Regions from separate parts of the Homo sapiens genome. Here region 2 is linked to region 1. Evidence: fine-mapped expression QTL. A gene starts in region 1. The other region holds a variant in brackets. All regions are shown on one strand. Distances are between the middles of the regions. Region 1 holds the start of NDUFA12 (NADH:ubiquinone oxidoreductase subunit A12). Region 2 has its middle 36 kb from the start of NDUFA12.

Region 1 (2,919 bases):
GTTTTGTAAAAGCTCATTGCATAATATGGAAAATAGACTCAAATCAAATCCCAATCCCAATCCAATTATTCATACTAAAAAATACTGCACTCACCAAAAAATTGCTTGTTGTCTTCATAGTATTTGTTTCCATATTTGTCTTCCCCCACTAATGTACCAACCTTCGCATCATTTGTCCTGTGAATACCCAAAAGAAAACAGACATTTTAGAATGATTCTTAGTTCAAAACATAAACGGAAATAAAGTGAGAGTAACAACTTTCAGACACAAGGGCTGCTGCATCAACTAGCAAAATGAAGAAGTGCTGGGGATGGGAAAAGATGAATTGACAACTGATGTGCTCAAATTACACTAAAAATATAAATGTAGTCTCTTCAGATTACAGGACTACTTGTATCTACTATCCCTCAGCCAGGAGGCACTGGAATTAGCAAAACCTTTAGGAAATCAAAAAGCCAAAGTATTTCATCTTCTTACAATGATACGAAGGTCTCCAGGCTCTTTCATTCCACTCTGGGTCTCCATTTAGGTTTCTGCGAAACTATGCTGCTCGTGGGATCAGTGAATGTCAGGAAGAGAAGGGACCATCATTATTACCTTCAACGCCTTACAGACAAGGAACTGTACGGCAGTGCAGGGAAAAAAACTTTACCAGGGTCACTGAGTTAATGTCTTGTAATCCTCATTACTCTCCAGGGCGTGGGAAAAGAGGGGAGCCCAGATGCCCTTGCCTCCGAGTCACAGCTCTGACTCTACAGATAGCTTCGGTCTTGTATCGGGGATATATGGGACAGAGACCAGCCTGGGGGTGGCAAGGCAGAGATTGGGGCGGTTGTCCTTGACAAGAGCTGTGGATTCTCCAAGGTGACCCGAGCCTGGGACCCCTTCCAAGAAATCAGCCAGCGAAAGTCCAGCCCCAGAGGCCAAGAGCATGGCTCTGGCCGCCTACCTGAAAAAAACCCGTAGATAGCCTCGGAGACCGCCGTGGCCGGTGATCTGCTGCAGCCCGCGTTTCAGGACCTGCACTAACTCCATCTTGCCTCGCTGGCCCCGCCTCCCGGGTGCGCCGAGCAAAACCCACCGGATGGAAGCTGCCACTCAGCCGCAGGAAGCCCACGCCCAGAAGGTTCTCACGCGAACGCCAGACGTGGTGGCTCTGCGCGTGCGCAGAGCTAGGTCTTGCCTACGCGGTCATGTTCTGGCTTCCCAAGTAGGCAGAATTGGTTTCCCCTGGAAGCAAAGGTACCTTAAAATTTAGTTTTCAGAGGTTAAATCTAGAAGGCGGGCATATGCTGGAAAGCTCACCTACACGAGGCTTTCTCACACGGGGATTCCCCCTTTGGGAATTTCAGTTTCCTCATCTAAAAATAATTGGCTCTGGTGGGCGCGGTGGCTCACTGTTGTAATCCCAGCACTTTGGGAGGCCGGGTAGGGAGGATCGTTTGAGCCCAGGAGTTCGAGACCAGCCTCGCCAACACAGCGAGAATTCTGTCTCTACAAAAAAAAAAAAAAAATTAAAAATTAGCTGGATGTGGTGGCGCGTGCCCGTAGTCCCAGCTACTCGGTAGGCTGAGGCTTAGATGGGAGCATCGCTTGAGCCTAAAAAATTTCAATATTACTTCATTTGTTAACCACAATTCTTCTACAAAGAGAAACCTCCCTTCAACTATTTGGCTCCTGAGATACAATTAATGTAGGAAAGGCAGTATGGGTGCTTGATTCTCTTACTTTTTTTTTGTTTTTTAATTTTAGAGACAGGCTCTCTGTCACCCAGGCTGAAATACAGTGGTGTGATCATAGCTCACTGCAGCCTCAAACTCCTGTGCTCAAGCAGTCCTCCCATTTAAGTAAGTGCCACCACCCCTGGCTAATTTTTTTTTTTTTAGAGATGGGCATCTTGTTATGTTGCCCAGGTTGGTTTTGAACTCTGGCCTCAAGTGATCCTCCTGCCTCAGCCTCTCAAAATGCTGGGATTACAGGTGTAAGCCACCACACCCAGCCGATTCTTTCCCTTATGTGTGTTTTCAAAATAACAATTTAGTTCCCTAGCTTTTTTTTTTTTTTTTTGGTAGTGGTGGTTAAAAACACAAAATATAAAATTTACCATTTTAACCATTTTTAAGTGTACAGTAGTGTTAACCACATGCACATTGTTGCGCAACAGATCTCTAGAACTTATTCTTCTTGCAAAACAGAAACTTTATATCCATGGAACAACTTTTTCCTCTTTCTCCATCCCCTGCCAACCACCATTCTACTTCTGTTTCTAAGAGTTTAACTACTTTAGATACTTCATATAAGTAGAATCATGAGGTGTTTGTCTTTTAGGACCTGGCTTATTTCACTTAGCATGATATCCACAAGGCTCATCCATAGTGTAGTATATGACAGGATTTTCTTCTTTTTATAAATGTTGAATAATATTCCACTGTATGTATATGCCACCCAGTTACCTGTCCATAAACATTTCTGCTGATTCCGCCTCTTGGCTATTGTGAATAATGCTGCAGTGAACACGGGTGTGCAGATATCTCTAAGATCCTGTTTTCAGTTCTTTTGGATATATACCCAGAAGTGGATTGCTAGATCATATGGAAATTTTATTTTTTATTTTTATAGGAATCCCCATACTGTTTTCCATGGCAGCATCACCATTTTACATTACTAACAACAATGCACAAAGGTTCCAATTTCTCCACCTCCTCACCAACACTACATATTTTCTGTGTTTGTTTGTATGTTTGTTTGTTTGTTCTGAGACGGAGTCTAACTCTGTTGCCCAGGCTGGCGTGCAGCGGTGCGATCTCGGCTCACTGCAACCTCCCCTTCCCAAGTTCAAGCGATTCTCCTGCCTCAGCTTCCCGAGTAGCTGGGATTACAGGCGCCCACCACCACCCCCGGCTAATTTTTGTATTTTT
Region 2 (2,919 bases), 36 kb before region 1:
CGGCCAACATGGCGAAACCCCGTCTTTACTAAAAATACAAAAATTAGCCAGCCATGGTGGCATGCATCTGTAATCCCAGCAACTCAGGAGGCTGAGGCAGGATAATCGCTTGAACCCAGGAGATGGAGGTTGCAGTGAGCCGAGATTGCGCCACTGCACTCCGGCCTGGGCAACAGAGTGAGACTCGGCCTAAAAAACAAAAAATATACACAGACATTAACTTCCTGGAGCCAGAGCTGATAAATATGGCTCCATTACTATGCTCTTATGATGTGTGCATTTCATACTATGGGCACTTGGCACCAGTGTATGAATTAACTTGTATTTGAGAAGAATGTTAGGAACAGGACATCTCCATTCATAGAAGGATGACTTGAAAGCGGGGATATAGACCGACAGGTCTTTGCAAGCTGATCACACAAGTGATTGCAAACCCTTGAAATGATCACCAATTTTTTGGAAACACAGCATGACATCATGGTAATTAGTGTTCTTTTTTTCCTGTAAAAATTGCTTAATGAAACTTTAGAAATTTCCTATGTATAACTATTTGCATGTTTAGATGTTATTTCCCACAAGAATTCTTACTTTCTGAAACTTCAGAATTTACTGTTCTGGGCTGCCGCTGTTTAATTTCAGTCACTATCTCACCTCCAACAAAAATTATTATTATTTTTTTTGAGACAGAGTGTCTCTCTGTGGCCCAGGCCAGAGTGCGGCAGCGTGATCTCAGCTCACTGCAGCCTCTGCCTCCCAGATTCAGGCGATTCTCCTACCTTAGCCTCCTGAGTAGCTGGCACTACAGGCATGTGCCGCCATGCATGGCTAATTTTTGTATTTTTAGTAGAGACGGGTTTTTGCCATGTTGGCCAGGCTAGTCTCAAACGCCTGACCTCAGATGATCTGCCTGCCTCAGCCTTCCAAAGTGCTGGGATTACAGGCGTGAGCCACTGCACCCTGCCCTAAATCTAATCAATACAGTTTTGCTTCATTATGTCTACATGTAGAGTGCTTTTGTAGGTGGACAGTGGCTGTTTAGTAAATGCTCAATACACAGATTCTTTACTGGAATAATTTTGTTCAGGCCTTTTCCCAAAAAGTAACAATAAGTACTATGAATAAAATAAAACAAGGAAATTCATACAAATAAACAATAATAGGAAGTTCCTGAGGAAGCTACTTTAGATTAGATGGACACAGAACATTCTGTTGAGGAGGTGATACTTGTAAAGTAAGATATGAATGATACCAAAAAAAGGAGCAACACAAAGATGTTAATATTCTAGGCAGAAGGAAGAGCAAGTGCAAAGACCTAAGACGAGAATGAATCCAGTCTTTGAAGATTAGACAGAGGCTTGTGTGGCTGACCTGTAGTGGGTGATG[C/G]AGGGAGAAATGAGAGATGATATCTGAGAGGTAGGTCAGTAAGGCACATCATAAACACAAGCAGGGACTCCCACAGGCAGTTCCACTGTCTTTTTTTTTTTGAGACGGGAGTTTCACTCTTGTTGCCCAGGCTGGAGTACAATGGCTCACTGCAACCTCCGCCTCCCGGATTCAAGTGATTCTCCTGTCTCAGCCTCCCAAGTAGCTGGGATTACAGGCGCATGCCACCACACCTGACTAATTTTTCTATTTTTAGTAGAGGCGGGGTTTCATCATATTGGTCAGGCTGGTCTCGAATTCCTGACCTCAGGTGATCCGCCTGCCTTGGCCCCCCAAACTGCTGGGATTACAGGTGTGAGCCACTGCACTAGGCCTCTTTTCTTTTCTGTGAAGTGAGTTTCTCCACCACGGACACTGTCCTACATATGACAAGGTAGAAAGCATTCTAATCCCATGAATGCTGATGTTGACCAAGGCATGATAGGCAAGGAAAACAGACCCAAATTCAGAATAAGTGCCTATTCCCACAAAAACAAATCATCTCTCCCTCCAATATGGAAGAAGTCCCGTGAAATGAACTTGCCGCATTGACGATACTGGGCTTAGATATGTGTTTTCTGTTGGGATCTTCAAGAAGTAGGCACTGAGACAAAGATTTGTTCCCAGAAGGTGATCTCAGTAATCATCTGGCTACTTTGTTCTAAATCTTTTTGGATTACAGCTCCAAGCCTCAAGGTTCATTTGCCAAGCTCCTCCCAAAACTTTTACACTAATCTTCCATGTTGCTTTTCTCCATCTCTGACTATCTAGCCAGTGACTGGTTACGGTTACAGATCCTCACCTCAGATCATGTTTCTCTCAAGTCAAAGTACATGATAAAAGACAGTGCTTGGAATTCTGCCTACAAATTGAGATTTGCCCTCTACTGTCCTTCAAGACCACCCCAAATATACACAGTACATTTCTAGCTGATAGTGCCTATTGTTCATGGTATCTGTAAGCCAGGTTTGGTTTTTTTCATTTTCAGTTAACTGGATAATAATGCTCCACAAGGGTAAAGGGACAGATTGGTAGGGGCGAGGTGTGGGAATAGAGTAGTTAAAGGCACAGGGTCGGGAGAAATCTGTTCAAAGGAAATGTGTCTTCATGGCCTGTCTGGTCCCACCTGCTAGGTGATGGAGTGCTGCTGGAAATGGTCAACTTTATGAGTAGATGGATTAAATAGCACCTGGTGTCCCATAGCCTCCAACATCCCCAGAAGCAAATTAGAACCGTTTCTCAAAAGGAGAATAGTAATCTTCCAGAAGGGGGTATGACCTTGCTCCAAAGTCCTGTGGGCTTCCATTGTGATTCTCCTGGAGAAATTTGTCTCTGACTTCAATAAGTCTCCCAATCAGCCAGATAGACTTTGAGAGGGCTGAGCAGCAGAGCTGCTTGGACTGCAGACTGGGCCACCTACAGGGACTATTTTTGCTCTGCCAGCTTTTCAGGTCACCAGGTAAATAAATAAGTGCAAAACACCTGTATGTTATATGC

Evidence for each region. PIP is the estimated chance that this variant, and not a neighbour inherited with it, causes the effect.
Region 2: its variant is the best candidate, but not a certain one, in a credible set for the expression of NDUFA12 in blood mononuclear cells (TOPMed, PIP 0.89).

Annotation. Positions count from the first base shown.
Region 1 is chr12:95,002,645-95,005,563 of GRCh38, forward strand. It overlaps NDUFA12 (NADH:ubiquinone oxidoreductase subunit A12), which reads right to left and starts at 1,053. Exons shown (of 4, transcript NM_018838.5): 1 at 951-1,053; 2 at 95-177. The coding sequence starts at 1,036. RefSeq lists enhancers at 684-1,311, 776-1,175.
Region 2 is chr12:94,966,552-94,969,470 of GRCh38, forward strand. No RefSeq gene overlaps it. Among named protein-coding and RNA genes, the nearest start is that of NDUFA12, 36 kb to the right of the region's middle. The variant C/G (reference allele first, on the strand shown) is at 1,384.